3 linked regions of the Homo sapiens genome follow. The protein of the gene in region 2 binds, or shares a complex with, the protein of the main gene of each other region. Each region holds a gene or a part of one and is shown on either strand. Other genes may lie near its edges. The genes, in order: CACNA1C, CACNA2D1 and CACNA1E.

Evidence for each region.
Region 1: the proteins of CACNA2D1 (region 2) and CACNA1C are in contact, whole or in part, in a cryo-EM structure (PDB 8WEA), measured with the Homo sapiens proteins. Residues at the interface, in NP_001353796.1 of Homo sapiens: Thr170, Asp171, Tyr173, Ile233, Leu235, Gly262, Ser263, Ser265, Lys270, Thr274, Ala327, Lys328, Gly329, Ile330, Glu366, Gln391, His392, Tyr394, Ile416, Gly417; in NP_955630.3 of Homo sapiens: Phe147, Pro148, Glu149, Asp150, Asp151, Ser152, Asn153, Ala154, Asn678, Lys1090, Gly1091, Asn1092, Tyr1093, Ile1094, Tyr1096, Gly1099, Val1101, Pro1104, Ile1106, Arg1109, Tyr1156.
Region 3: the proteins of CACNA2D1 (region 2) and CACNA1E are in contact, whole or in part, in a cryo-EM structure (PDB 8EPM), measured with the Homo sapiens proteins. Residues at the interface, in NP_001353796.1 of Homo sapiens: Thr170, Asp171, Tyr173, Ile233, Leu235, Ser261, Gly262, Ser263, Ser265, Gly266, Leu267, Lys270, Ala327, Lys328, Gly329, Ile330, Thr331, Glu366, Gln391, Asn393, Tyr394, Ile416, Gly417; in NP_001192222.1 of Homo sapiens: Gln110, Leu112, Pro113, Glu114, Asp115, Asp116, Lys117, Pro119, Arg122, Asn630, Phe631, Asn632, Asp633, Gly634, Ile1330, Gly1331, Asn1332, Val1334, His1336, Met1341, Val1343, Arg1346, Arg1393, Ser1394.

Annotation. Positions count from the first base shown.
Region 1 is NC_000012.12:2,690,473-2,699,605, reverse strand, and holds the end of CACNA1C (voltage-dependent L-type calcium channel subunit alpha-1C), read right to left. Parts: intron 8,800-9,133; exon of another isoform or gene 8,707-8,799; coding exon 8,407-8,706; 3' UTR 1,656-8,406; downstream 1-1,655. UniProt on the Homo sapiens protein: Pore-forming, alpha-1C subunit of the voltage-gated calcium channel that gives rise to L-type calcium currents. Mediates influx of calcium ions into the cytoplasm, and thereby triggers calcium release from the sarcoplasm.
Region 2 is NC_000007.14:82,431,797-82,442,465, forward strand, and holds part of CACNA2D1 (voltage-dependent calcium channel subunit alpha-2/delta-1 isoform 1 preproprotein), read right to left. Parts: intron 1-10,669. UniProt on the Homo sapiens protein: The alpha-2/delta subunit of voltage-dependent calcium channels regulates calcium current density and activation/inactivation kinetics of the calcium channel. Plays an important role in excitation-contraction coupling.
Region 3 is NC_000001.11:181,476,059-181,487,726, reverse strand, and holds the start of CACNA1E (voltage-dependent R-type calcium channel subunit alpha-1E), read right to left. Parts: upstream 4,211-11,668; 5' UTR 3,984-4,210; coding exon of another isoform or gene 3,983-3,983; coding exon 3,717-3,982; intron 1-3,716. UniProt on the Homo sapiens protein: Voltage-sensitive calcium channels (VSCC) mediate the entry of calcium ions into excitable cells.

The sequences.
Region 1 (9,133 bases), on a different chromosome or scaffold from region 2:
GAACCTGGTACCTCAGTTGGAAATGCAGAAATCACCCGTCTTCTGCGTCGCTCATGCTGGGAGCTGTAGACCAGAGCTGTTCCTATTCGGCCATCTTGGCTCCTCCCCTAGTTTTTTTTTTTTAAACATCTTTAAGAGAGTTGTTTTAAACTCTTTGTCGAGTAGATCTGCCATCAGGTCTTTTCTAGGAGCAGTTCCTGTTAATTTATTTATTTTTCCTTCGAATGGGCCACACTTTCCTGTTTCTTTCTTTGCCTTGTGACTTTTTGTTGAAAACTGGACATTTGAATCTAAGAATGTGATAACCCTGAAAATCAGAGTTTCCTCCTTCCTTAGGGTTTGGTGGTGGTGTTTTTGTCTTTTTTAGGCCACTCAAGCATCGGCATGAGGTGTAAACTTCAGGTCTTCTTAGGTGTTTTCTGAGCCTGTTTCTTTCCCAGGGTATGTGCAGTCACTTTCTAATTTTCCTTGTATATGCAGTTGCTTTTGAGTGTCTTAGTCTTTAATGTCTGTCTCCCAAAGAAGGAAAAAGAGAAAAGTGAAGGGGGAAGAAGGGTGCTGGTTCTTCAAATTATCTGGAATCACTTCAGCTAGTGGTGGAGGGGCTTGCAGCAGTGGGGAGAGGTGCAACAAAAGTAGCTGCCCACCTCTGTGTTTGCACCTCTGTGATTAGAAGCAGCAATAAGTATCCTGAACAAAGATCCCTGAAATTTGAAGAACAGGATATTTTTAGCCCACTCTGGCCTCTACACGCTGTGTGCAAGGTGCTATTGGACAAGTGCTCAGCTGCCTGTATTATGAGATAAATAGTACTTTCTCATAATAATAATAGGTTCTGCTGGTACTATTTCCACCCAAGGAAGTCACACTGGTTATCTCTTCATGCCTGTCTATGCAGTGCTCACCCTTCCAGGAGTAGAAAGTGGGCTAGGGGAGGAGAGTGGGTTAGCTGCTACTGTACTAAGAGCTGAAATTGACCAAAATCAACCTTGATTTACTGTCCAAGCCTCCCCCTGAAAGTTGCAAACCTTCATTAGACTCCAGAGTTTCAAAATATTAATAGTTAAACAAAACAGATTCTGCCAGTGTATTTGTTGTCTATCGGGGAGGATTCTTGGTGCTCCTTACTCTGCCATCTTCCCAGAATCCTCTGGGACAAATTATTTTTACTTAAGGGGTTATTCTGAAAGGTTTATCGAAATCAGATTAAGTTATAATAACAAAAAAAAAGAAAAGCAATCTTACATTTGTATAGTCCTCATAGTACTTTATATATTATCATATCTCCCCCTCCTTTCTTCTCTCCTACATTCCATCCCTCTTCCCTTCTGTCCTTTCAAAACCAATTTCAGAGACTGCTTTTCCTGTCTAATCCATGTGAATTAGCCATTTAATTCCTCTGATTTTGTCTCCTTTTTAACTTTTGGCCATTTTTCTGTCAACTCTTTCATGAGAAGGAAGAAATAGGGGATGGGTTAACTGCTGAATGGACTTAGGTATTATCATTGGATTCATATTTCCTGTGTTCTCTCCAGTCTTCTTCCTTTTGGGGATCCCAGACAGTTGAGATAACTGAGTGAAGTTTGTATTTGTGACCTCTAGGAAACAGGAGAAAGGAAGAAATAAGGAAGAGGGAAGATACAATGAAGTCAATGTAGACATTGTTAAGAAATTTATTTGCAATTCTTATTTTTTGTGTTTTTTGTTTGTTTTTTAAATAACATCATTCCTTAGATAAAAATGCAATCTTACAGGAATATACAATAGTGTCTCACACAGAGATGACCCTGAAGCTCTCCTTGAAGGGTTGCCCCTTCTAGATTCCCTGGCCTTTCTCGAGGGTGAGAAGGCCCATCAGGCGAGGCCTCTGACAATGGGATTATTTGAGGATTACAAACTGTACAATGATATTTACAACAGTAAGACTGTGAAGTCGTGGAGCCTGGAGGGGAGGGTGTGGGGGTGTGTAGGGGTGTGGGGAATGGTGACAACGGAGGCACTGCCCATCTTTCTGTGCCTCTCTGATAACAGGCATGATACAGATTGGTTTGGGGGATGAAGGTGGGTTTGAGCTGGAGGACATGAGGGAAGGGGAGATTAGAGGAGCTTTATCTGGAGCGTTTCACAGGAGGAAAGTTTTGCATGGTAGCTCTGGTGGATTAAAATAAAACAGCAATATTATGAGAGTAATAGACCTTTCAGTGCTTCACCAACGGGGAATCTGTCGCCCTATTTCTTAATGAATGTGCGTGTTTTGCCATGGGTTATTCTCATCCACTACCATCACAGACTTGTCCAGACATGCTCATCTCTGTTTCCCATGGCCTCACTCCCACGAGGCTTGGGGGAACAGCATGCATTCTGGCCAGGACAGGACATGGCAATGGGGTGGTATATAACCTGGCTGGGATTCAAGAGATGGATTTCAGGTGTGGGTATGGGCTGCAGCTGGATGCATAGGTGGCCTGAGGCAGGAAAAGAGAAGGTGCGCACAGCTTTGGGATGCTGGAGACACCTCCTGAAGGGGATCTTTCTGCACAGGACTGTGTGTTTACAAATCATCTTCCCTTGATGTACAAGTTCTTTCCTTTTCCCCTTTTAAACATTGGTGTAGTTTCTCCATATTGGGAAGTCTTGGGGTTGGGGGCTATGTCCAGGACCCAGTGACCCACCCTCTTTTGCTTCTCTTGTGACTCTACAGGAGAGACTTCTCTTTTCTCCTGGCCAATGGCCAGGAGAGGTTTCTTCAAGGGGGTCCCTGAAACCTGCAGCCTCAGGTTCCTTGGCAAGGGAGCCACTGCTTGGCCTGGTGCCTGCTCACCTTTTTTTCCTTATTCCCTTGGTAATAAACTTGAGATCTCTAAGATTTCCACAATGGGAATTCTCCAGACCCAAACAGTGAATAAGAATCATTCTGTCCATTTCTGCATTTCCTCACATAGAAATGACCCTCTCTTAAAACTTACAAACTCTTCCACCCAGAGCTTTTTTTTTTTTTTTTTGGATAATGACCTTGGTTTGAGGTGCATGAGTGAATTTTAGAAATGAATGTACAATGTATGTCTGATTCACACCAGGGGAAGTGGCACAGTGCCCTTTCTGGGATCCCTACAAAGTCAAATTCCTTAGATCCTGAGAAGTGGAGTGCATGGGATGCCCTGAAAAGGTGGGGGTGTCCCTGTGTAGCAGCCAGTAACTGATCTGAAGGGAGAGGACTTGGCTCTGGTGATGTAACATTTCAAGCCTCTGTGTAATTACCTAGTCTTAGTCTTTTCTTCCTCATTCTTAGTAGAGACGTGGGGAACTTTCATGAAAAATGCTAATTCTGACTCCTCTCAGCGTGCAACAGATTTGTTACACTTCATCCACTCAGCTGCAAGATCTAGAGTGCTTTCAGAGGTGACTGGAAGAGTTCTCTAATACCCTACAAAGACCATGGATCTTTGCCACTTCAGGTGCTGTGGCTCAAACCTCTTAAAGTCATCCCAGGAAAAAGTGTTGATTGTAGTATTCTCTCAATGTATGTAAATAGAATTTATGTCATAATAATAGTAGGTTCTGATGGTACTACTTCCATCCAAGGGAGTCACTCTACTGCACCCTCCTTGTCTGTGTATACAGTGCTCACCCTTGCAGGAGCAGGAAAGTCCCTCATCTAGAGCTCAACCCCAGCCCTTGTGCCTTAACGGTGTGTGTCTGTGTAGTGAGGGGGGTTGTTCAAGCATCCCCCGTCAATGTAGAGATGTGGCAGAAACCCGTTCACCTGTTGTATTGGTATCTGGCTCCAGAAAGAAAAGTTTCATTGCTTTGACATAAGAATAAATTGATGAATGAAGTTAAACCCAGAAGAGGCTTCACAAAGAGGTCGTGTAAGCATCTGCCCATGGGACTCCCTTCCACGCACCGTCTTTCTCACTAGGTGTTGGGGAGGACAGGGAGCTGGGGCTGGGGAGGGCAGTGGGAAGAGGGAGCTTTGCTTAGGGACAGGGAAAGGTGCCCCATTCCTGACAGTTGTAGGACTTTTCTTTCCCTCCTGTCTTCCCCCTCAACCTCCTCAAATCGTAGCCTCTGGAGAACCTGGACTCTGGCGGCTGAGGGCCTCCCTGGGAGTGAGGTTTGGGCTTCCCCGCCTGTCTTTGCACAGCAGCCTGTGTCAGGTGGCACCTGGACAGCCTGAGGGGAGGGACATCAGCAGAGGGGGGACAGGGTGGCAGACACCCCCACATCCCACCAGGTAGGCTGATGTGGCTGGAACAACACCCCCAGATGGAATGAGTACTCTTCTCACCTTCCCAAATAGATCCTTGAGATGTCAGCGGCTCCACCACACTGGTCACTGTGGGTGGGTAAGCTGAACACATCCTTCCATGAACTGGGAAGAGGCACAGAGGGAGTCAAAATATGCCCTTTTCTTGCCTCCATTCTCCTCCCAGTCCTCTCTGTGCTGACATTTGCCCCAGAGGCAGGTCTTCTTTAAAATATGGAAACGGCCCAGACTCCATCAGCAAGTATTTGCCTCCCCTGGGGTTTAAAGAGGTCTTCTGGGAGTCAGCAGGCCCTTTTTGTGGCCTCTTTGCTGAATTGTTTCTAATCCTTGACAATGATATTTCAATTCTTGGCCTCTAGGGATGGAGATGCCATCATCCTCCTTTACCACCTTTCCCACGATGAGGCTAAAAACCCCGATGACCAGGGTTCCACTCTATCCCTGACCTACATTCGTGTTTTCTTTCTTTGCCTTTAGGAGTGGTGGCTGTGTATCTTCAGGACTCCATAAAGTAGCCACCATCTTTTGGGTGACTTCCAAAGTCCTCATTTTCTAGGTGTCACTGTTGCTCAGGAGATGAACTTGGGCATGGAAAGGTCTGCTTCTCCTGAGGTTGCCCCACTGTCTTCAGCTGCATGGGCAGGAGACATGCTGGGTGGAGAAAAGCTGGGAGAAAGTAACGGGTAGCTTCACTCCAGACAAGCACCTGGAATTTGGAACTGGGAAATAGAATGAGAGACATTGCCTTGTTCCTTTGAGTGGATTTCCCAGTGAGAGTGAGGCCTATTGGATTAAGAAGAAGGAAAGGGGTTATAACTAGTACCTTCTGAATCAAAGCTGGGAAAAATTCTCCAAGGTCTGGAAATGAAAGAGGCAGGGCTGGTCGGAGGACAAGAATTAAGTTGACCAAACTGCAGACCTTAAACTGTTGTTTCTTCAAGTCCCTTGGGCCCTTAGCCCCTGACTGTTTTCTCCTGACACTTGGGGGCTGTCAGGAGGGGTATGGAAGATGTGACAATTATGTTTTACAAGGTCATGGGGAAAATTCCATTTTAGGTGGAGAGTAGACATCACTTGGAAGATTGTGCTGTGGTTCATTGATGTCACTACTTGTGCCAGTCTGTTCTGATGACAGGCATCATACGCCAGTCTTATTCTAGTGGATCAGAAGGTCAAGCTAGGATAGTCCTCCTGCCCTAGACAGGGAACGCCTGTGTGTACCTCCTGGTAGAAATCTTGGGAACTTTTCAAAGGATGATACCTAAACTCAATTTCTAGAGGACCTTGATGGCAGTGAAAAGGAATCAAGAAAGTTTGGATGACTTGGGTGTGGATATCCATAAAGAAACTCTGTTTCTAGACTGTGTTAACCGGGGAGTATTGAGTACATTTCTCCACTTTGTCATGAATCAGTCCAGCAAGCTGTCATAGAGGAATGGACTGTCCCTTATTGTAATTTCTAGCTTACTTATATATGTGCCAAGAGGGGCTCAGGGAACACTAGGACTGGAAGAGATTTAATGGGTCAATTCTGGGTGAATGGTTGGGTCCTGTTTTCCCCAAAGCAGTCCCTTTTCAGCCACCACTGTTGACATACATTTGAAGGACACAGCACCAAAAGAGTGATGTTCTAGGGAGATATAAGTGAGCATTAGAGATGCCCCCACAAAAATCTGTTCCCACCCCCACTGTGAGCTCCGGATGCCTCTTCCCTTGTCCTGGCCCCCTCCCCGGCAGCCCAAACATTAGGGCAAGCCTGAAGGAAAGGCTGCTCCAGAGTGAGGAAGGGATGGAGAAAGGAGCACGCAGAGTTGACTTTCAGATGGATCAGGGTTTCACCAGTTCCTTTCTCGAGCCCCTGCTGTCCTTGTTGGGTAGAGCAACAAGAATCCGGAAGTGAGGATGCCCCTCCCTCCAAGCAGCCTGACTTTAATTTTATCCTCCCGGTTAGTGTACACTTTCCTAAGGAAGCCAAAGAGAAAATTCCGTGTGGTGGAAGGGAAGGGAAAGCCAGCTACCTCTTCCATGGGGGATGCGGATGACGGCCCAGTGACTGAGGGCTCATCAGAACGCCTCCCTGCACCTCACAGTGAAGGGCTGTTCTTGGAGAAGTACCAAATCAGATGACCAGAGCAGAGTGGACAGAGTGAAGACTGGAATAAAATAGGTCCTGGTCTCTCACAGCAAGAGGCGGTACAAACATACCCAGCAAACGATTTTGGAAAAATTGAGGGAAATGTAAGCAAACACAAGATATGCAAAACAGTAATGTCCAAACCTGTTTGTGGAGAGCAGAATAATGACTACACTGGTGATACCTTTGCTCATTGTGCAAACTAAAGAAAACTTGTTCCCTTTCCCCCAACCACATATAGAAAAGCACTTGAGTTCAAAGGTAAAGCTTGTCACACTCCAAATACAAAATGATTTACTTTACATGCAGCAAAATATACAAGAAGTGAATCCGAAAACCAACTTAATTCAATTCATTATATTCGCTTGGCACAATTGCAATTCAGTTTTAAAAAAATATTTGAAAAATACTGAAACTGACCTGAATTCAAGTATAACGGTTTCTTCAACAGAAACATTATCAATGCAATAAAACATTACACGGAATATATTGAAGCAAAATGCCTTCTTGTGTTTTTCCCTTAAATTTCTGTCTTTTTTTAAAATACAGTTTTAATGCCAACACAACTCACAATTGTATTTTTAAATGAATATTATTGCATTGTTTTTGCATATCTTGTGGGACAGAAAATGCAAAGAGTTACTGATTCCCGTTTCAGAAGCAGAGACAGTGGTTTGTTTTTGCTTTCAAACGGCCCCAGATTCAGATCTTCCCACAGCTAAACCAGAAAGGGGGGACTGCGTAGTCACTGGTGTGCACGGGCACATGGTGTGGGTGCATATACACGGGCAGGACATATGCACACAGACAACCCACCACACACACACGCGTCGCACACACTCGGAGACTCTCTCGCGCATGCTCCTCTCTCCCAAACCCACCTGTACACCCAGCATAAAAAGGAACCCAACTCTATCACCCACATGTGCAAGACCACATCAAGTGCATTGCCAGTTACCTTTCCATTAGATAACCGAACCAAACCAGAACAAAAATAGGTTACTACCTAAGGAAATGATAACAAATTATTGGGCATACACAATGGTTGGTAAAACTCTCCTGCAGCGGCTTCTATTGAACCTCCGTGGAAAAAGGAAACCACAACCGTTTAAATAATACAAGAAAACCAAACCCGATGTACATTGGCAAAAGTGAAAACAGAAAGGTGAGGGGGCTACAGGACTTTGTAAACACTCTTCTTCCTCCCCTCCCGCTGGGAAAGCAAAATAAAACATTTAAAAAAAACCAAAACCGAAAAGAAACTGCAACATGCTGTCAAGAAAAGTGTCAAACCACAAAACAAAAGAGCGCTCAGCGGAAGCTCAGCACCACCTGGTTGGGCGGAGCCGGCGGCGCAGCTCCTCCCTCGCGCTGCCTGCGGGCCGGCGGCTGGCCGGGAGCTCGGCGTGGCCCGTGCCGGTCGGGGGATCCCGTCGCAGGTGGGCAGGGACGGAGTGAGCCGCACCACTGCCGGCCCGACGCCCATCCCCAGAGCTCCGCGCCCCTGGAGGCCTCCTCCTCCCTCTCCGGGCCGGGTTGGGGTCCTCCTGGAAGTCCTGCCCCGCTCCCTTCTCCAAATCCGCAGGGCCCTGGCTCTAGGGAGACAGCGAGGCTCGTACAGAATATGTGCAAATGGTTTCTACAAGCAGAGTCGAAAGACACCCGTTTGCTGTAGGGTCCTTTTGGTGAGGGCGCGCGGGAAGCCGGGGTGCTCTCCCCGCGGAGGCGCGGCCGGGCCCGGGGCCTGCGAGCTGGGAGAGGGCAGGCGCCTTCCTCGCGCCCCGGGACCCTCGCCGCCTCCTCTCCCCGCCTCTGCAGACGCAGCCGGGCGCCTTCCTCCCGGAGGGCGGCTCGCGCACCCAGGCTCCGCGTCTGGTCCCAACAGAAATGAATGAAGACGCTGTTCCGGTTAACTCCAGGTCACGAGAACAGTGAGGCACTTCTGAAACGAACCCATTAGGAACATTGAAACAAATAAAAAAAAGCCCGCATCTGGCAGCGCCCACTACAGGCTGCTGACGTAGACCCTGCTGTCCTGGAGCTCCTCCTCACTCGGTCGACCCCGCGCGCGCACACAGCCCGCGTCCTCTTCGCCCCCGGCTCGGTCCTGCCCCGCGTCCCTGCAGTTCACAAAGGGTAAGAGGGCGCCATTGGGGCTCTGTGGGGCGCCCCCGCTGAGGATGTTGTCGGCCGCGCTCTCCATCTCCTCTATGGTCATGTCGCAGGCGTCGGCCAGCTCCTGGGTGGTGACCTCGATGAACTTGGGATCTTGAGCAAACTGCCCCAGTCCTTCTGAAATCAAGACCTGAAGGAGCGGGGTGGGAGCCATGAAGAACCAAAGGAACATTACTCCTGGAGCCCAGCTCTTCCCTTGAGGGCTAGAGCGAGGGGGTATCTGGTAGGTCACTTGGGGAAGTGTGCGTGTGTGCACGTGTACGTGTGTGTGTTGGGAGGGGCACCCATGGGGAACAAGTGGAGATGGAGCATCTGCCAGAATTAGGGATGTGCAGGCCAGAGAAGTTTTGGCTGGGGTGGTCAAACACTGTCATCAAATATATGAAGACTTGCTTATGGCCCAGCACGGTGGCTCACACCTGTCACCCAGCACTTTGGGAAGCCCAGGCAGAAGGACTGCTTGAGCCCAGGAGTTCGAGACCAGGCCCAGGCAACACAGGGAAACTTCGTCTCTACAAAAAATTTAAGAATAATTAGCTGGGTGTGGTGATGCACAC
Region 2 (10,669 bases):
TGGAGGTTGAGGTGGGTGGATTACTGAGGTCAGGTGTTGGAGACCAGCCTGGCCAACATGGTGAAACCCTATCTCTACTAAAAATACAAAAATTAGCCGGGCATGGTGGCACGCACCTGTAATCCCAGCTACTAGGGAGGCTGAGGCAGGAGAATCACTTGAACCCAGGAGGTGGAGGTTGCAGTGAGCCGAGATCACGCCACTCCACTCCAGCCTGGGCAACAGAACAAGACTCTGTCTTAAAAAAAAAAAAAAAAAAAAATTGGAGAGTACTAATTAATAGTGCCTGGCATACAGAAGGAGCTCAAAAATGTCAGAAAACAATATTATTGTAATTGAAGAATGATTGTTAGTAATTATTACTGTTCAGACACTGCAGGTGGAGACACCAAAATTAGTTCAAACTGTGAATATCTATGGGAGAGAAAAAAGAGCAAAGTCACAAAAGGGAAATAAATAGCCCACCCTAACTCTTCTTATCTCTTGCCACAAACCGCAAGCATGGTTTTTCCACACTGCAATGGTACCAATGAGATGAAGACTGATTCTTAGATCCACTGGCATTTGCAATCCTAACCATTCATTCATTCATCTTGGAAACTCAGGAACTGCCGTGATGGCAAGTGCCAGTAATTTCCAGACCTTCAAGAGACCTGGGATGCCTCAGTGAGGTTTAACCAAGGATATGCTTTGCAGGGATATTCTGTCAGTTTTTTGTTTGTTTATTTGTTTAGAGATGAGCCTATGTTGCCCAGGCAAGATTTGAACTCCTGGGCTCAAGCGATCTTCCTGCCTCAGCCTCCCCAACAGCTGAGCCTACAAGCGAGCCCTCGCCCAAATTCCAGTGGTTTTTTAATCTTCTAGAGTTTACTGTTTTCTTTTCTTGACAAGGATCTGTTTCGACCAAAACTTCTCCCTTCTACTGGGGGCAGGAAGCACCAATAGAGTGGGGCAGTAAACCACTACTATCTGCTTAAAATTAATGAATAAGTAATGCTCAATTGCCAAAGGAAAGAACTATTTGTTCTTTTATCTGTTTCTTTTTCAATGATATTACTGGAAGATCTTTCTACCACAAGCACCACACACTTAAAATCTAATGACATCGGCTGGGTGTCGCGGCTCACGCCTGTAATCCTAGCACTTTGGGAGGCCAAGGCAGGTGGATTGCTTGAGGTCAGGAGTTCGAGACCAGCCTGACCAATATGGTGAAGCCCCATCTCTACTAAATATACAAAAAAGTTAGCCGGGTGTGGTGGCGTGCGCCTGTAGTCCCAGCTACTCAGGAGGCTGAGACAAAAAAATCACTTGAAGCCGGAAGGCAGAGATTGCAGTGAGCTGAGATCACACCACTGCACTCCAGCCTGAGTGACACAGTGAGACTCCATCTCAAAAAAAAAAAAAAATTCTAACGACATGTTATAAAACTACATGAATCTTTAAGATGATAATCTCTCCTAGGAAAGAAGTAAATGAAAAATAAAGACAAGTGAGAACCAAATGTTGCTGTGTCCAAAGGTAATATAGTGGCAAACTGGAGTCTTGTTACTACCACTGAAAGAAAAACTCTAGTCCATTCCTCTCAAAATTTGAATATTACTAATGTGTATGTATTACATTTCTGAATTATGTCATTCCTTCTTGAGAATGGAATATGTAATTTAAATCATTCCTCTAAAAACATCTCCAGTAAATTAAAATTATATCTATCCTGTATTCCAACCATCTGCTTTAATTCTCAAGGCTGTTTCATATTTCAAAAGTTACTTTGTAAGACATTGTGTTTAGTCTTGATCCCTTCCTCACCTGCCTCTATCAGAACATTCATCCATCAATCATGGCATCTCATTGCTTTCATCTCTCTGACATTTGGTCTTCTCCCTCTGAGATACTGGAATCTCCCTTCTGGTAACACTATTTAGTTGTCTGTACAGCCTTCCACACCTTCCCCACCCTTCTCACCAGAGCCTTTTTCTGAGAATCGGCTCTTCCCCTATCCAGGGTAATAGCAACTGGCCTTTTACCATGTAATACCTCCTAAGAAGACTGGACCAGATATGGTGAACTAACCCAAGCTCAGGCAACCAGAGTCTCTTTTCCAAATCCCATCTCCTGGTCACAATTAAATGGACTGTAAGTGGCCATCTGGCCCACATTCAGACTGTCAACACATCTTCTTTGGGAGGTTATCTTTAGGACTAGAATTCTACACTCAAGCTGGTTCAAGGCTTCAAAGGAGAAAGCATAATCCCTCGCAACCATTCAACACCATGAGCACTGGAGGCAGATAATGCCAATTTATAGAGAAAGAGAAGAAAGAAGTGACACAAAGAAAAGCAGAAAATGACTTGAGAGATTATCATGATAGCAGTCTCACCTTTTTCTGCAGTTGTTGGAACATCCTTGACCTGAACTCCCATGATGGATCATCCAGCTCCACTACCATTTAAAAATATTTCTCTTTTTGGTTTAAGATAGTCCTATGGTTTTGTACAATCTACAATCCCAAACGGCCTAATATTAACTTACTATTTATTGTTTTTTCTTAACTTTTATTTTTAAGTTGAGGGGTAAAAGTGGAGGTATGTAACATAGGTAAACTTGTGTCATAGGGGTTTGTTGTACAGATGATTTCATCAGCCAGGCATTAAGTCTACTTAATTAGTTATTAATTAAGTACTTAATTAAGTACTCATTAGTTATTTTTTCTGATCCTCTCACTCCTCCCACTCTCCACCCTCTGAAAGGTCCCAGTGTGTGTTGATCCCCTCTATGTGTCCACGTGTTCTCATTATGTTGTTCCACTTTATAAGTGAGAACATGCAGTATTTGGTTTTCTGTTCCTGTGTTAGTTTGCTAAGGATAATGTCTTCCTCTGAATTTACTCTATTATCTCTCACTTTCCTCATGTCACCGAATTCCTGGAAGAAACAATCTGCACTTGTCTCCATATTCTCAACTTGACCAACTCCTCAAGCCACTGAAACCATGCTTCTGTCCCTGACACGCTACTTAGACTTCTTTCTTTCATCAGTGGCCTGATGACTTCCTTTAAGGGGTCATCTAGTTTGACCTCTCCACAAAATGAAACTGTAAATCAAGGCCCTTCTTTTGAAACTCAGTGTCTATCTTAGTAGATTATAGATAAATATGAGTTAAATAAATGAAAAAAATCCTTCTTCTGCCTTCAAAAGTATTGCTCTCTGAATTTGTCTCCAAACTCTCTTCAGATACTTTTTTTTTTTTTTTTTTTTTTTGAGACGGAGTCTCACTCTGTCACCCAGGCTGGAATGCAGTGGCACAATCTTGGCTCACTGCAACATCCGCCTCCCGGGTTCAAGTGATTCCCCTGCCTCAGCCTCCTCAGCAGCTGGGACTACAGGCGCATGCCATCACACCCGGCTAATTTTTTGTATTTTTAGTAGAGATGGGGTTTCACCGTGTTAGCCAGGATTGTCTCGATCTCTCCTGACCTCATGATCTGCCCACCTCGGCCTCCCAAAGTGCTGGGATTACAGGTGTGAGCCACCATGCCCGGCCCAGATACATATTTCTAAGGGCCTAACAGACATCTAAAAGACACTGCAAACTCCAAATGTCCAACGATCAACCTACTCCCACTCTCACAACATCAACCTGCATTCCTCCTGTGTTCTCTAGCCTACAAAATTTAATGACACATGATCTACATGTTAGAGATCTAAAAGTCATCTCCAATTCTTCTTCCTTTCCTGATTCCCCAAATCTCACAACCACCAAGTCCTGAAATTGTACTTCTACTTCATACCTGCTTCACCTTCTCACTGCCACTAATCTTTTTGAAACCTCGGGCATCATCTCTGGTTCAGTGAATGCTGCAATGGTATACTAACTAGTCTCATTGCCTCTGCCTAATATACTGGCCCGCCTTAATCCATCTTCTACATATTATGATTCAAACCTATTACTTTTTTTTTTTAATTTAAAAATCTCAACAGCAACACAGGATAGAAGACCAAATTTGTGTTGGTACACCAAACAGGGCTATTGCAAATGTCGATGTAATATGAGCACTGCTCATCCCCTCCTTGGGTCAGGATGCAAGAAATTTATAACCAGACTTAAGCCAATAGCTACCAACATCACTTCCAATTGACAAGTCCAATGCCTAACAAAGAACAGACCACGTTTCTTTAGACCATGCCCCTTCAGTATGCAATGTACTTTTTCCTTGGTCATGCTCTGATGTATCCCAGTGTTCCATAGTCAGCTTGGAGTTGCTAATGTTTTCCTTAGGGACTCTCTTCCCTCAGTTTGTATTCTCAACATGTAGCTCAGCGCAGTACGTAATTTGCACTGAATAATAATCATCATCACGTTAATTGTTGAATTAAATTATATTTGGTGTTAAAAAATATTTGAAACAAGAAATATTTAAAAAGGCAATATAAATTAAAACAACTTCAAAAATAAAATGTACTATTTATTTAGAAGCCTAGTTTTAAGTATACTACCTAGAAGGCTGCTTACCTGCAAGTTATTTCTTTCTTGTAATCTAATGAAAAAAATTTTCTAACAGAATTTCTTTCTTGTTGATTAGCACTTAAGCTCTTAATTAAATGTTATACTAGTGTTTCTTATCCAATAAACCATTTCCCAGAATTTCATAAAAACTAAGAATTTTTAAGTACTTATGTTCTGAGATCTAGATAATTTTATTGTCTTTGGTCTCTAAGGTGAATTTCCAAATGTGAATATTTAAGTCTCTAAAAATGATTATTATGTTTAGGAAGCAGCATTTCCAATATAACCAAGCTCATATGGGAAATGAAGAAAACAGAAGCATTAAGAAAAATAACCAACTGCTACCTTTAGTATCTTTAATGTAATTTTGCACCTCATAAATCTGAGGGCTCTTCTCTCTGCCCCACTTACACATCCATCACTCCTCAGAGTATTTTCACCACAATGCCTGTTGCTCACTTTTTAAAAACAAGAGATTTTTGCAGTCTGCCTGAGCCCATTTATTTCATTGCACCATCCCTCTTGTAACTCTCAAAATATGGCATTATTAATATTTAACCATCCCTTCACATAGTTTGACAGTATGCACCTTAGAAAAATTTTATTAGCTCTTTCCCCTCTTTTCCCTAATTATCCCTAAGGTATTGGGCAAATATCAAAAGAAACAATTCTCTAGACTTGCTTGACAACTTTGGTATGTGTTGATTACATATTACAGGTTTATCTGTATATCAAAATCCCTCAACAATTTCTCTTAGAGAGAAATGTCTGGTGATAACAGGAAATCTGAAACAGGGAGCACAGATTGAAGTGAAAAGGACCTGAAATTGAGGTCTGATCATGGGTAACTTAAGAGAAACACATTTTAAAATTTTTCATTTGATTTGATGTTATATACAAATAATAATGTTATGGTTAATAGTAATTATATGCATGTGTATGAAAGAGAGAGAAACCAGAATTTATTATTTGAATAAAATAACATTGGAATTGCTTTCCATCATTTGCCAGAAGACCACCATAGCGTATTTTTAATTACACAGAAAAAAAGAGCTTCAAATAGACAGTAAGATTATCCCCAAATCTGAAGCATTTAAAATGGCCAGCACCATTATTTTCTACTGCCACCAGTTCAAGTTTTTCTTCCATTTATGATACAGAATTTTAAATGTATCCTAATTTTTTAAATCCACAGAGCATATGGTTAAAAAAAATCAGCAGAAGCAAATGTTAAAATAACATTTAGCCAGAAATATCCCACATTCATATTCAAAGAGAACTTCAAATATTGCTTTATATATAACAGCCTAATTCTGAATTATTGAAATTAACTATAAAAAGTGTGCCGGTTTGTTGAGGCCACAAAGTCAATCTTTTCCTCGTTCATAACCTGTACAAACAAGTGGCAAAATATAAAGGAGCAATGACCGCTTTCTTTACTCATTTTTAAAAACTGCTAAGAGTAGCTGATTCTATGTACTGAATTACTACAAAAGATGTAAAGCCTACAAAGAAGGGATATTTAAGAGCTTATATTTTACAAATAAAAATTTTAAACCTGTGCACATTTGCCTTCATTCCTAAAATATCACACCACCAAATATGTTTAATTCTAAATTTCAAAGTATATCTTATCTAAATGAAAGAAATAAAACTGCTTAGTATGTAAAGAACTTTTAATAGGTGCCAACATTTCAAATGGTATAGTTTCTTTCTCACACTTGTTTAAAAGACAGCAAAACTGTCTTTAGAATCACTTTTTTAATTACTTGTCAATTATGTTAGTAACCCGTCTCTATAGGACTTGAGCATTTTCAGGCTGCTTGTGTATGCAATATCTCATTTAATTGTCTTGGCAAATCATTCTTAAATGCTGGTGTTATTAAGTTAGATTTAATCCCTGAAAACAGTTGTGGACTGACAGAAGACCTAAGGTATGCACACTTGTTAATAAACTTACCTTACTGAGGTTTTTCTACTCTGTCAATCCACTTAAAGTTTTAAAAATATGTATGGACATACACACGTATATATGTGTATTTGCATATACATAAAATACTATCTATTAAATAGAATACTATATAGTGACACAAACTAGGAAAGTTATCTAATTATACGATGTTAATATTTTGGACTCTCAAGGAAAAGGTAGTAACATAGTATTTTTTCACAAAGTGCTGCCACTTTTACTTAATTGACATTGAGGTCAATTGCCTTTTTCTTTCAACTCTGTAAACAACACTACGCAATCGTTTACATGTTTCAGTGCACATACAAAAAAATGAATCCTGTGTAAGCTACATGGTTGGCCATCACAGCCCATTCCTAGTTTACTGGAAAGCAACTGTATGAAAGCCTTGGGAACAGTCGTGGTACTGCTCACAGATAGTTCATGAAAAGAAAGACTGGTTGACACAGTTAGTGACACAGTGCTTGATGCACACTGTAAGCCTTAAGTAAATGTGGAGGCGATATAATAGAACAAAGTTTGTTCCCCATGGAAAGCAGCTGACCTGCTTTTTGAAACACTACCACAGACAGCTCTTTTAATAGAAATAATGGACCGTTGTCATTTTAATAACAATAAAATGTTACTTTTTTGAAATACTGAAATTCTGATTTTTTTCCCAAAATGTTATGTATACTTACGTTAGAAATGCTTATGTCCATACATATAAGACATTAAATGAGATCAACAAATTGCATGATTTGCCTAAGATATGTTTCATTTTACCCATTTAAATCTCCAATTTAAAGTTATAAATAGCTTGAAGACATGTGCTAGGAAATTCTTGGAAACTTGCATCTATATTGAGAAATAGGGAAATCAAGAGAAACCTTAAGAGGTGCTTTATATAATGATACTCCAGAGAATATGTAAATTATATAGTTTGTTATGAGCACTATTGTAAAAATTATTTGTAAAATTTCTCAATGCATTATTGTTTATGAATATATACTCCTATATATACTAAATTTTAGCACAATAATAATTTCCATATGTTATGTTTTTGTAAAAATTTACTATGTGTAAACCCTAGAAAGAAGAGTATTTTATTGTTAGTTTTATCAATGTTGGAGAAATAACAGAAAGATGTCTACACAGTCAGTTTGTTGTGAAGAAAACAACTGTAAAGCTCTTATCTATTGTCAAAATGAACCACCTACTTTATATTCAAATTTTATGTATATTTATTAAATTAAATTAATGAAAGCCATGGGAGGGGGAGATAATAAAGGCACATTTCATTTCCCTTTAATAAACCATAATATGCTTAGATTCTTGTATTTTCTTACATTTTTTTCAAAAATTATATCCATTTCAGTCTGCTTAATTTTCATTCAAATGCCAATCCAAATAGCTACACATATAGCTATGTGTAACATTAATAAATTTAACATAATATTACTACTTACGTGGAAAAATATATCTATTGTTGCATATTTTAAAACATACATCTGTGGAATAGTAAATGTTATATGGTTAAGCCGATGAGAACAAAATTAAAGACTTGAGAAAAGTTTATTAATGTTCACTGTTTCAGGTTTTATTTTACATTTAATATTTTATCTCATAATTGATCATATGGCACATTTCCTTGTGTATGTAAAATGTAAACAGAAACTGCTGACTTCAAGTGAGAATAATTATGTCACTTATAATGCATGGAACAGATATCCATTACAATATCCTGACATACAAAATTTCTCCTTTATAGCCTTAAATACAAATTTCTCTAATAACAGGAAAAAAAAATATCCTAAGTAATTAAAGCCAAAAGTACTATACTTCTATGAGAATTTATGCTTATTTCCTGTGGATATCCACAATTCTTAGTTTTATATTTATACCATTGTACACTTTATATTAAAATCCCTGTATACCAATAGGCTCTCAGCCAATTATTGTAGACTGACTGGCATTTTGATGTGACTGAGATAAAAGTTTGATATTAACAGTTATAACTATATATTTTTTAATTGCATTTGTAAATAGATTCTAAAATTAAGGACAAATTTAAATTACCATTATAATACTGGCTATCACACATGTAATTCTAAATATTAAAATAGAAGTCTTTTAACATGTGACAAGAAATTATTTCTAGAAAAACGGACAACTACCCTTTTTGAAAGCTACATTTTAAAAATACCAATACGACATGTGCATACTATAGCATAAAAATGATATATTTTCCATTTATATATCAACCAATACACATTATGTGGCTGCTACCATATCATGTATTTATGTTTCACACCTTAGGGAGACAAACATTTCCAAAAGAAACACCTAACCCAGAGAAATAATCATATCAAAATTTCCTTGTCTGAAAAACATCTATTTTAGTGTTAACTCTTAGAACAGGTTAACTACTACTTTAATCCAAAAGAAAATTTATATTAGAATGTATGTTAAACAGGAGAGCAAAAAATGAAAGAAGATACTTAACTGACACATCATTTGTTTTACCATAATAGAATTTAAGCCCTTCACACAAATGTAAACACTCTATATTTTTAAAAAAAAACTTTGAACTACTAATTCTAATTGAAGTCCAACTCCAATTAGTGCATAATTAATTTTATAGTGTGTGATGGCATGCTCTTCCTCTTCAGCTGATAAAAACTTCTTACATTACTTTTTCTGTGAAAAATGAAACTGGCAAAAAAAAAAACCCAAAAATATTTACTAATGATTCCGAGAGAAATTTACATACAGAAGCATAATAATTTGCCTTTATTGACACTACAGTCTTTGCACTCAGTTTTTATAAATTTGAAATTTTCCCCCAAAGATTTGAGATTTGTCCTGATTAAACAGTGCATATGAATTCTTTTCTCGAAAGAAAAGCAAATGGCACATCTTTATGAAAAATATTGCATTTTTTAATTTCATAAAGTTTATTCAGAAATCTAACATGAAGTACAAATGTCAACCATCAGTTCTTTCCTCAGAAGACAGTGTTACTAACTTTTCAAATGAAAAACTGAAGATGCAGAAGGCTTCCAAAAATATTGTTAAGATTACCTACAGGAGATTGACTTCGCTCCACAAAACCTTTTATTAAGTATTTCATTCATTAAATAATCAATGTCTTATATAATTTGAAAATATCTTGAATTTTCATCGTTAAAAAAAATTTCAGATCCTTCCAAAGAAAAGAAATTGTGATGTCCTACTTCCCATTTTAACCCACTATATATACTCTTTCTTGTGTCTAGTAAATTTCTGACCATGAAAATTGATTTACTTATAATTTTAGGAAAGCATTATTGCAGATGTTCTTCTTAACAATAAGGATTTTTACATTAATATTTTACCACAGTATGTTGAGGAATAAAAGGTTGTATTTTGTTGTAGTTTTCCCCAATGGTATGATGATGTATCCCCTCCCATGATAAAAATATTGATAAATTGTCAGTTAAAAACAACACTGTAAAAATGAGTAATCGGAACACATTTAGGAAGTGATTGTTTTTTAAAGAGCCACTTATTTATTTGACACAGAATGCAAGCGACTCATTTGAGTTCTCACTTTACAGGCCAAGCAACAAACAGACTTAAAAAATTAAATGGAAGTGTGATGCCTTAATAAGAGTAAATAATTCTGAAGCATCCTTAGGGTGATTCTTACTCTTTTTATGTTTAAAAATATCTGACTGGAACATCCTGCCAATTAAACGAAGATCTCCAGATGGCATTTACCCTTTTGCTTCATAACAAAAAGGATCTGCAATCAGTTTTATGGAAGATTATCTAAAGAGGAACATTACTGTAACTCAATGACAACAAAAATTAGACACTCCCCTTCTCCGGGATAGAATGTGCATCCTCCAGATTCTTGCACTGACACCTAAGGTAATAAATACTTAAAACTGAATCTTAAATAATAGCCGCAGGATTTCAACCGCTAAAGATTCACTGTTACTTTCCACCAAAAACTCCTGTATTCAGCACTCAGCCAACAAAGGACAGCAAGTAATTCCCAGCAGCATAAATACCGGGAAAGCTACCTTGGGCTTTGTTTTTGTTATGTAAAATGCATTAAAGTGACTCATCCACTTAAGATTACCTACCTTTAGAAGCTTTAAAGAAGCTCCAAGAACCAAAATAAATGCTTTCCCAGAATGCCGGATAGGCTATTCGGTGCATTAAAAAATA
Region 3 (11,668 bases), on a different chromosome or scaffold from region 2:
TAACTGGCCCTGGGCATGAAACAGTGAGAGCTGGTAAGCATGAGGCACGGTGAACATGGGAGGGCACTCAGAACAGCCAACTGCCAGAGAAGATCTATTAGATGAGCAAAAAAGAAAATGAAAACGAGGAATCGTATAGAATGTAACATCACATTTTAAATCACATTAGCATTTTTAAAAAGAGTATGGTATCCACTGCAGAGGAAAGTGCCATAAGAAAATAAAATTATCTCCCTATGCAGATGTAGCTTCCAAGAAAAATGAAACACATTCAGAGTAGGCTGTTGACTTGCCACCATCTTTCATGCCAAATCTGGGTTATCTTGAGCATTTCTTCCCATAAGAACTAGACCTCCCCTATTAATAACTGGATAAGATTACCCTCCCCCTCCAAGTCGGGGTGATCCTAGAAGCATAAATTAAACCATTCCTTTTACTTAACCAATCTTTTCAGACAAACATGATTAAAGACCAGTAATGCACAGCATGATGAGACCACTAATGCGGCACATAGAAGTGTACATTATCCCCCTCGTCCTACAGTGACTTTCTGCAGCCAATGAAAGTGTAAGTCTCAAAACGTGTTGTAACACAAACAAAATCCTCAAGCATGCTAAATGTGCAAATGTCAATATGAAAGCAGGTCTTGACATGTTTTCTGAACAACTGAACAACCTTCCTTTCTTAAAAAAAAAAAAAAAAATCTGGCACTTACAAAGAGCAAAGAAGTACTTCCTAAACTTTAATGAGCATATTAATCACACAGGGATCTCATTACAATGCAGATTCTGATTCAGCAGGATTGAAGTGGGGCCCAGGATTCTGAATTTTTAGCAAGCTCCCAGGTGATGTGGATGCAGCTCCTTGCTCTCTTTGAGAGGCAAGAATCTAGAGGACTTCACCTGAACTAAGACCCCTCCCCACTTCAGGCACGCTGAAATTTCTGAAAGATGCCATTAATAATAACAACTAGTGATTACTGGGTAATTAGATAATGTTTTAGGCATGTGATATATATTAAGTCATTTAATTCTCCCAGTATTATTATTATTATCCTCATTTAACAGGTAAGAAGACTGAGTCACAGAGTAATGAAGTAATTTTCAAGGTCAGAAAGCTGGTGAAGGAACTAGGATTTCAACCCAGGCAGCCTAGCTCCAAAGCTTTATGGGCAACCACTACCCAGACTGACTCCCAATAAGACAAAGCAAGATACTTGGGAAGTTATTTGTTTAGAAAGGAAAGGAAGGTGAGACTAGGAATTTAGGTGCGTTTCCCACGGAAGCCCAATGTTTCCACGTGGTCACCACCAGAGGGAATATATTAGTCAATTACATTGTACATGGTGTATTTTATATTTTCCAACAGGGCTCCACTAAACACCTTAGCAGATGTTCCCTGAACACTGTTACCACAGCCTACATGCTGTAGAACCACTGTGAAATTTCCAACTATGCAGACAAAAGAGACCATTGGGACAGGGCTCGGGGCCAAGGCACTGAGCATGATGCTGAAATCAACTCCCTCGAGAGTCTCCCGTTTGACTCTCTTTGGTCCATTTTTGGCCAAAGACAAGGAAAGGGAGGAGTAAGACTCACAGCCGCACCTTGCGCGCTCGCAACGCCTGGTGGAAAGGCGGTGTCTTTGCAGCGGAAGAGAAAACGTGAAAAAAGGTGACCACGTGGTGTAGGAAACGTGCCTGGTTTCTCAGCTCCAAGGCTGGGCCCGGCCAGAAGTACCCGAGGTGCTGAACCCGGGTAACTGGGGAGCCCCGGGCCGCCGGGAGTTTCAGCGGCGCTGTCCGAGGTGCCAACGATGGCTGCTGGCACACTTTGCCACCCGCGGGGCGGTTGGGCGGCTTTGTCTACCGCAAAGAAACGGGAGGGCGCCTGTCTGAATAAACACGCCCCTAAGAGAGGGGCACAGCAAGGCAGCACCTGGTGGATGGGAAGATTTAGAGAACCGTAGAAGCCGAGTGAGAAAGGAGGGCCCAGCTGGGAAATCCGTAGACTGCCTAGAGGAATATTTGCAGCCGCAGCACACAACACAATGAGATCTGTCCGCTTTGTGCAGCGCACCGGCAGGCGTGACTGCAGGGACCCGACCCCTCCCCCGCCCGAAACCTCCACCCTAGCTAGATACGTTCAACTCAGGCAATGGATGGCCTGGGATCACTCTGTGAGAGTGGAGCAGGGGAGCGGGATGCAGAGAGGAGAGAGGGAGAAGCCCAGCCGGGGTTGCTGTGGGAGGATGCGAACAGCAGCAGGAAGAATATCTGCTTAGAGATGCTCCTTCGTTTCTAATGAGGGGGTGCTGCCTAGAAGCACCACGCGCCAGCCAATCACCGAGCTGCTGAGGCAGGGAACTAGAGAAGAAGGGGAAGGCCAGAGACTGGGGTTGGGGGAGTAGGGAGATGCCCAGGCCCTGGGGGAAATGAGCCGCGTGTCTGGCTAATACTAGAGACCCAAGGCAGCTCCAGCTGCCTCACTGCTGCACACCTGGACGGTGGGGGTGGGAAAGAGGGAGAATAGGGGAGAAAAGAAGGGGCCTCCATTGCAGATGCATCCCTCCCAAATCTCCCTCCCAAAGTCCCATGTCTCCAACCCCATCCCCATATTTAACGCCAGACCACTAGCTTGCCTCCTACTAATCCCCTTCACTGCCTCACCACCCCCAATTCCCAATGGCCTTGCCAGGCGTCCAATCCTTAGTGAAGAACAAGGCAGTGAGCTGCCTAATCAGCAGTCTGCATTTGGTGCACTTGATTAAACCTGCAAAGAAGCTCCTTCCATGCCTGTTCACCCTGACACCACCACCATCAGAGATGGCCCCCACCAGTGCTTTGGGGAGAGCAGTTCCTTTGGAGCTAGGGAGAGAGAGACTGCATGCACACCTCTGGCCTCAGCGGATGAATTCAGGCCCAGCCGATCCACCTGGATCCTGGATACTGGGAGAGCAATCAGCTGGGTCAAGCACTAAGAAGCAAGAGTACCCAACCAAGGACCAAGGACAGGATGGGCCTGATGAGCTGCTCTTTCTTGGCTGAGAGGAGAACTCCAAGTTTGAGCTCCTTGGGCTGTGGCAACAGAGATCACCTCCCCTGACAGACACTCACTCATGCCACTTTCAGTGGAACTTAAACTTAAGTCCCTAGAGTTAGCTGAGTCCCCACCCAAAAGCCTGTTTTATTTATTCATTTGTCTATCTGTACACAGGGTTTTGGCCCTGGGAACTTCTGAACTGATAAATCCCCTCATGGAGCCTTGACTTCCCTACAGGAAGACAGTGCGGTGTCTCCTGGTTGGTGGGGATACGGGCAGAGTGGCTGGCTTAAAGAAAGGAAAATGAGAATTAATTATGAAAGGAAGCATTGGGGCAACCCAATCTATGTAGAGGGCGGCATGTGAAGGGAGTAGGGGTGGGGAGGGGGCTGGGAATCAGACAAAGCCCAGCCCAGAAAGGGATGCACCCAGGGACACTAAAGATTTCCACATAGGAAAAATAAAAAACCAAAAGTCTTACCTTGAAAAACACTAGTGCCCAAACGGGTCTCCACGGCACCAAGCTTGCCCCTTAGATGCACCGAAGAGTGTGCTTCAGCAAAGGGGCAAATTGGCACCAGGAAGGGGTGGGGGATACATTCCATGCTAGGTACCCCCCTTCACCCGAAGAAATGCAAAGGGGGAGAGGGAGTTATGGTGGGCAAGAAAGGATATGGCCAATCGATGAGCTTCTTGGCATATTTCCTGACAATGTTATCTTCTCCGAAGATGAACAGGGATCTGTTGACGGTGAAACAGTTCTGCCGGACGGGAATGGGGTTGTACAAAGCCATAGTCCGCGCCCTCTGTGCTTTCGTCTGCTTGTAGGCGGCCGCCTGCCCCGAGGCCGGCACGGGGGTTCCTTGCCGGTTCCTGCTCTGGTCCGAGTCTCCATCGCCGGACCCTGGCCTGGCGACCACCGCCTCCCCGAAGCGAGCCATCCTGAGGTTTAAACAGACAGAAGACACACAAAGGTGATCGCGGCCGAACACCCGCACACAGCAACAAGCAGAAAGACACACGGAGACTCAGAGCCGCATCCAGACAAGCACGGGGACCACCGCCTCTGGGGAGCTCCGCGAGCTCTTCGGAGAGGCAGCAGCAGCAGCCCGCCGCTGTGAACTGTTGAATCTAAATGCAACCTCTGCGAAGCTCCATTCCTCAAGAAGGAAAAAAAAAAAAAAGAAAAAAGAAAAAAAAAGCGGGTGGTAGGGCTTGGGGGTGCCCAGTTTCTGGAGGAAAATATTTTTTTCAAAATGCCAGTGTGTGGTGGTGTTCAGGGACCAGAGAGGAGAGGGGTGGAGTAGGCTGCTCTTCAAACATAGCTCCTCTTCTGGCAGACGCACCACCTAGTTCAGGGAGAGAGGCAGGCACCGGCCCGCTAGGTAACAGTTTGGTGATTTATTGGTTGGGGGAAGGGGTGGGAAGGAGGGGAAAATGAAAACAAAAGAACTTTAAAAAAAAATAAACAAAGACGAGGACGGGGTTACGATGACATGCTTTATAACGCCAGCCCCTGCAAGTCCATCTAAGAAATTCCACCGCGAAGACTTGGGTCTTTATATCTGCCAGCAGAGACGCATCCAAAGGTTGGAGAAAGAGGGAGGGAGGTGGGGAGAGCGATATTGAGGTTCCTGCGTAAACCGCAATGCCCAAAATCTCAAAATAAGAAGTCGATCCAAGCGAAAAGGGACAAATGACTTCAAAGCTCCTGCGCTTGGGCTAGAAGTTGAGCAGCATCCAGAGAGCAGCGAAGCCTGAGTGCCAGCATCCGCCCGGAGCGCTCGCCACCGCCGCCTCCCCGGATCAGCATGCAACAGCGATCCGCGGCTGCGCCGCCGAGAGGGCGGGAGTGCGAGCGGGCGGGCGGCGAGCACCGGCGGGCGAGGAACAGGTTGCAGCCGAGCCTCGCGGCGGCCTGGCACCACACTTGTCCACAGACCGAACTTCCTCACTAACGGCTCAGTCTCCCTCTTCCCCGCAGGCAGCGCCCTCGGCGGAGCACTGGAGAAGATGCGGAAGGAGAATGGGGAGGCGAGGCAGAGGACAGCGAGCGGCGCGCAGAGGCGCAGCGAGGCGCGCAAGAGCGCTGGGAGAAGCGGGGGAGGAGCTGGCCAGGCGGGAGGGGCGGGGACGCAGCCGGAAGGCTGGAGGTTCCTGGAAGGTGAGGCTGGCTTGCCTTCTTGATTTATGTGGCCAAAGGGTAGCAGCCACCTCTGCAAAGGTCCAGTGAAGAGTCCCCTTTCCCCCAAGTAATGCCGAGAAGAGAGAGGCAGGTGCAGCCAGCGATGCGGCGGAGTCTCCGCAAGAGAGCGAGGGCCTGGCGTGGGGCGCACACGCACGCGCGTCTTGGGTCCCTGCAGAGAGGTGTCCCCAGTGCTGTGCCCTGTTCGGTGCCGGGAGCGGTGCCACGGGCCCGCCGCCGCCCTAGTAAGGTGTCGGGGCCTTTGCGCGCCTAGCGCCATGGCCGCGTCGCCGCTCCTCCGCACCTCCCAGGCTCCACGAACACGGCCAGGCATTTCCAAGTAGAGGGCAGAACCCTCTCCCCATCTCCCCACTTAGCACCTGGGAGGCCCCGTGGAGGAGGCTAGGACCTCTGGGGGTTCCACACTCTGCTGGTGGTGCTGGCTCCTGGCGGGAGCTTCTGCCCTCACGGGGCGGCCTCCCGGTTCCGCTGTAGGAAAGCCCTGCCCGACGTCTCCTGGAAGGGCCCTCCATGGTGAGTTATGGGCTAAAACTACCCTTCTCGAAATGCGAACAATCAGAAGGATCCTCCCGCCCCCCATCCTTTACTCCCAAATAAGCTCCACGGACTTTCTCAAACCCAACCCATTAATGTAGAAAAAAAAAAAAATAGAATTGGTATCTGAGCTGCAGAGGTGGGAAAGGTGGACTCCAAGCCCCAGGGAAAGAGCTCCTGTTTAGCCGCCAAGCCCTTCCCCACAGGTGACTGGTGGTTTGAACTGAGGGCAGGGACCAGCTGTCCCCTCCCATGTCCACACTAGCTGGGGCACACCGTCTTCTGTGTTTTCCTGCCTTGGCTCAACACATAGGCCTCTCCAAATCCTTCCAACCCGAACAATGGAAGGGAAGAAGGAAAGGAGGGGCTGAGGAAGGAAACAGACACTGACCAAAGCCCAGAGGTTGGAAACCATGGGTGAGTATGGCTTCACGCCTGTGAAGTGAGATTAACTGTTGAGAAGTGAGGTGATGTCTGAGTGCATGGCATGTGTGTTTCTACGGGTATGTGTCTGTCTGTGGGCAAGGCCCTGTGAGCACTGACATGTGTCTGTTGTGTGAGAATGTATGTGAGAGTGTGTGTGTGTGTGTGTGTGTGTGTGTGTGTGTGTAGGAAAATTCTCTACTGGAAATCCAAAGGAATGGTCTCAACATGTCCAGCCTGCTGCCCTTGGGGAAGGCATTTGACCTTTGGATTCAGGGGAGCCCATTTCAGGTGAAATTACTATTCAAGGTGAGTCAGCTGTAATTGTTACTTTGATTTCACATTACTGCCTTACTCTGTCCTTCCTCCTGCTTTAATCAGAGGGTCCTCTTCTGTCTGAATACCTAGTCAGTCGTGAAACGGAGGGAGGGTGGTGCTGTGAACCATGAAGTCCCATCAGCCAGTCACTTAGAACTAGTCCCAAGTGGCTATCTCGGTATCCCTGTAAACTACATAGGGTTAGAAAAAGGGCTTTCAGAAATTATTAAGTGTATGTCGCTCCTTTCAGACAGTACCATAATCCATAGCACAAAATTCATTCAAATCATTAGAGAAGTATCTTTGAGTCCCTTCCAGGTGCCAGGCACTGTTTTAGGCACTGAGGATACTATAATGAACAAGATGGGTGATGACATAAATCATGTAGCTTTTTACACTAGATTATACTAGATTGTATAACCTTGCAGGCCAGAAAGCTTCATGAACTTCACTCTCATGCTGTCACCTCACCCCTTTCCTTTGTGGTTCTGCCTCAGCAGGCTGGCGGCATACCTTCTCAATGCCCAGAATAAGCAGGGCTCACTAGCCTTTTACTTCCCAGACTTAGTTCTTGGAACATCAGAGATCCCCGACTTGTCTCTTCAGTGTTATCAGATGTCAGCAGAGATCCAGTATTCCACGTCCTGTATTCTCTTTGGCTGTTGTAATTCTTCAGAGACCTAGAATACTCAAGATGGGATACTACATGTGCAAATGCGACGACACACTGGAGTTGATATCTGCCTTCTTGCCTTCCAAGGAGACAGGAATCATAAATGCATAGGTTGGGAATTAATGTGGAATACCTTAGGGAGTTTCAGCACCTATGTGAGTTAAAAGGGATAATTCTTGGAGGGTGCAGCCAAAAAGGAAAGGGGCAAACATAATGGCATAAATGGCTTTGTGAAGAGACTTGGCCTAAGGGCAGCAGTGCTAGCAGGAAGACAGACTCTCATCTTCCACCCCCACCTGGCTGTCATAGCTCTTGAGAGCTTTGAGATCTATGAATTTCTATACTGGTTTCATACTCTCTAATCCCCCATTCTACCAGCCCCCAAGGCAGCTACAGTTGTTGTTTTTATTTTTTTTTATAGAGACGACGGTCTCACTATGTTGTCCTAGCTGGCAACTCCTAGGCTCAAGCAATCCACCTGCCTCAGCCTCCCAAAGTGCTAGCATGAGCCATTGCGCCCCGCCAGTGGCTACAATTTTAATGGTTGAATAATACATGTGTTTAATAGTTTTCAGTTTACATAAGCCCCACAGCTGAGCCTGACTCCAAACTTCTGAGGTGAGCCTGGTAACACATGTATCACGACCCTTGACAGACAAAGCAGCAGAGTTTCAGCAACGTTAAGCCGTTTGCCCACATCTGATAAGCGGCAGAGTGTGGACTTCTAACACATCTGACTTCCAATCTGCGGCTCTTTCTAAAACCCATGCTGCCCTTCAGGACAGCAATAGGGTAATTCTAAATTGTTTATCAAGAGAAGAAACTATACAATGACACTAAGCCTATGGAAATGCTATGCTTACCATCCTCAAATTGAATTTGATCAGAGGCCAAGTGTTCCTGGCACCATGCCCTCAATATCCAGGAGGATCCTCAGAAAAAGTTCATGACCAGAATACTGTAGTCATGCGGTATTGCATGACTTCATATGGGAATTTCTTCATATGGGAATTTGGTGGGCATTCTCCTTCCAGTGCCCCGAGTTCCACTGTCCTATTAAGGATCCACAAATGGAAATGTGGAAAATTAGCAATTAGTCATAACTCTGATTGGAAACCAGTCTGAAGACCATCTGAAAATCCCTTTCCAGTCTCAGAGGGACAGTAACTGTATTTTCCTGTTGTCAGAGCACCATCTACTGGTCACTGAGCACGAGTGCTTGGCAGCCCAGCACCCCATGCACCATGCCTCAGAGCTTAGATATTCCTAGGCTCTGACCTCTTGTCAACAGCCCTCTACTCCCCTATGGGACTTTGTTGAGGTACTAAATTTCACCACAATGCAGCCAGCCCATCTCACAGTAGTTGGAAAGTGCAGCCCCACACACACCCTCCCAAGTTAAGATGGGGTTACCAAATGCTCCACATGTTTTTCTGAAAGCAATGACCTGCAAAGTGGAAACCCAACAGGAGCTAAGGAAGCAAGTGGAAAACTTTCCTACTTTATAAAGCCCATGAAGACTATTACATTTCAAAGCATTTATCCTGCAGCCCCTCTACTGCAGTGTATCATCGAGCTGCAATCAGGTGTGAAGGGGACTGGTAGGTAGTCCCTCCAGCCTCTTCTGGAAAAGGCAGAAAACAAGGTGTCCACACTGCCCCAGATCAGGCAGCCTGTGGGAGTTTGTACTAAGACAGATGGACATGAGTGGCAAAGTTGGAGAAGCAGTTGGCCTATTACCCTCATTCTTAAGCTCTTCCCAGATCTGTCAGGCCTTGGGCCATCTTCATAAGAGATTTTTCACCCATCACTGAGAAGTCTGTGAATGTGGGCTTCATCCAAATGGCCTGTGCCCCTCCCACCAGGCCTGCTCCTTCATCTTCCCCCACCCTGCCAGTTACACTCAGATAGCTTATGCTTAAGTTATCAGAGCCCCTTTTGTTCTATTTTTCCTCCGTTGAGCTTTTCCAAGAAATAGACTCTTATGCAAAGCAGTGCTCTAAGGAACATAATGCAGAGAGGATTTGGGAGTGGGTTCTTAAGAAAAAAGTTGGCAGGAGACCATGTGCAAATGCATAGTGGAGCAGAGGAGCATTATGGCAATGCAGACATCTTGGGAGTCTGGTGGCTTTCACAATACCTCACAGCCCTTACTTGGGTGAAAACATAACTTCACATCCTTATGTAATGTCCGTCCCTAGAATCAGCATCTCTCAAACCTAAGCCTGAGAAGCCCCACACTCCAACATGCTATCAGCTAACCACAGGTCAGCAAAGTTGGTTTTAAAGTGTTTTAAAAACCATTCATTTATGACAACCCATCACTTCCTGGGTGCCAACCGTAATGTTTTCTCATTGCATCTTTGCAGAAGGACTGTGAGGCACATCCTGTTATCTGAACACCCAGAGAGTCAGGGACTTGTCCAAGTGCACAGAGCTAGGAAATAGCAGAGCTGGATCTCCTAATAATAAGGACAGGATTCTTCACAATATGTGACCATTATTAACATACTGCATGTCAAAATAATATTTTCCTTGCTTAAGAGTCAAGTTATAGGCAGGATCTTGAGCTTTAGAGAGGTAAGGCATGACCTTGAACCAGAGAGTCTCCCAGAGGGTTTAATTGTTAAGAATAATACCATTCTGCTCCACTGGGCTGTTGTGAAAATTAAGTTAGTTTATATGCATAAAGCTCTTAGATCAGTACCTTGCACACAATAAGTATGTGCTACGTAAGTACTTGTTATGTACATTTCACCTTCAGTAGCTGTGACCACGGTAACACACTGGAAACACTGCATGTCTACAGACTCTGTTTCTGAAAGCCAACTTCAGAAGTGCAGCCAGGGATGAACACACTCTGTTGTGCGGGGGATGGACAGAGGAGCAGAGACATGTAAGTGCCTGAGATCAGGTCAGAAAGAGGAATGGAGGAAAAAAGGAAAAAAAAATAGTAGAGACCAGTGTCTGGAGACCCAAAGGCCATGATACCTGAGAGAGCTGTGTGTTTGTTTACTTATTCATGAATTCATAAACCCATTTAACAAATACTCATTAATCCCCTTTGATGAGCCACACATTGTTCTCAGGGATTCTGGGGCTCAGAGATAAATTAGACACAGTCATAGCCTCTAAAAACTTACAGTTCAAAAGAGGAGAAGGGAAAACATACCCACAAAGGGCTCGAATACAAGGCGGGATGTGGAGTGCACCACAGGAGAGTACTGGGAGACAACAGAGCAGGGAGCCATCCCCTCCCACTGGAGGCAGCTGGAAAAGGGAAGAATACAAAAGAGATCTCTTTGAAGAGCTAGTTTATTGGAGGCATGGAGCAGCAGCCTGCAGCATGAATGTTTAGGATGTTTTGGGGGGTGGGGAGGGGGGCAGTACACAAGATGCATGGAGTTAATTAGTAAATCAGCATTTTTATTTTCTTTCAATGTATCTAGGATCACGAAGATTATAGCATTACCACTTCAAGCCTTTCTTTCCCATAAGATGAGGTCACCTTTCAGCCCAGAGAAAAGCCAAAAATATGCTTACCCTAATAGATATTAAGCTTTATTGGGAAAGTTGATTTGGAGGTTCGGAGTTTAGCCCCAGACAGCAAAGGATCCCATGCCCATCACTGTCTACCTCCCTTCCCACCCTCAGGGCCCAACCTTGCTGCTCAGCCAAGGCAAAGTGCAGCAGGAGGACTCAGCAGCGCCCCAGCTCCCACTGATGGGGGTGAGCAGAGGGTGAGAACAACCGGCAGGAGCACATCCATCCATCCACCCCCACGGCCTCTTGACTCAGAAAACACAACACAGCCCACACCTTGCAAAGCTCGTTCAGCCCGGGTGGGCTCAGGCCGATTGGTTCATTTAGCAGACATGCAGTGAGCACCTTCCACGTGTCAGGTATCATGTCAGGGGCTAGCCCAAAGGAGGCAGTGCCTAGGAGAAGGTGCCCAGGTTGGATTCGTGTCTTGCCTGGTCTTGATCCACTCCCTACATTTCACTCTTGAAGATAATGCCGCAGTAACAGAAAATGCAGCTCACAGCTGCAGTCAAGCCTAAAGGGGCCCTGAAGGCCCAGAGAAAGAGAATAAGATTCCACTGCACCCACCAATCCTGCCTCTCCAAGAACCCTTTGTGTTGGAATCATCAGCAGATTAAGCCACCACCTGTCCATCACCACACCCTCTCTCTCCCACTCTCTCCTACACTGAGCAGCTGGTTACACCCACCTAGTATAAAATAATCAAAGGGAAGAAGGCATTCCCATATGATATGGACTTAAGGCCAGTTTTGAAATATATACCTGGGCAGGCCATTTACTAGCTCTGCCCCTTCCACTCCACAGAAATTGCTCTAAGACTACCACTGAACCCCTGATGGTCCCTTTTTTTACCCTCCTACTTGACCACTCTGCAGCATTTGACACCACTGACCTCCCCCTCTCCTCAGAGGTCATCGTTCTTGGCATCCC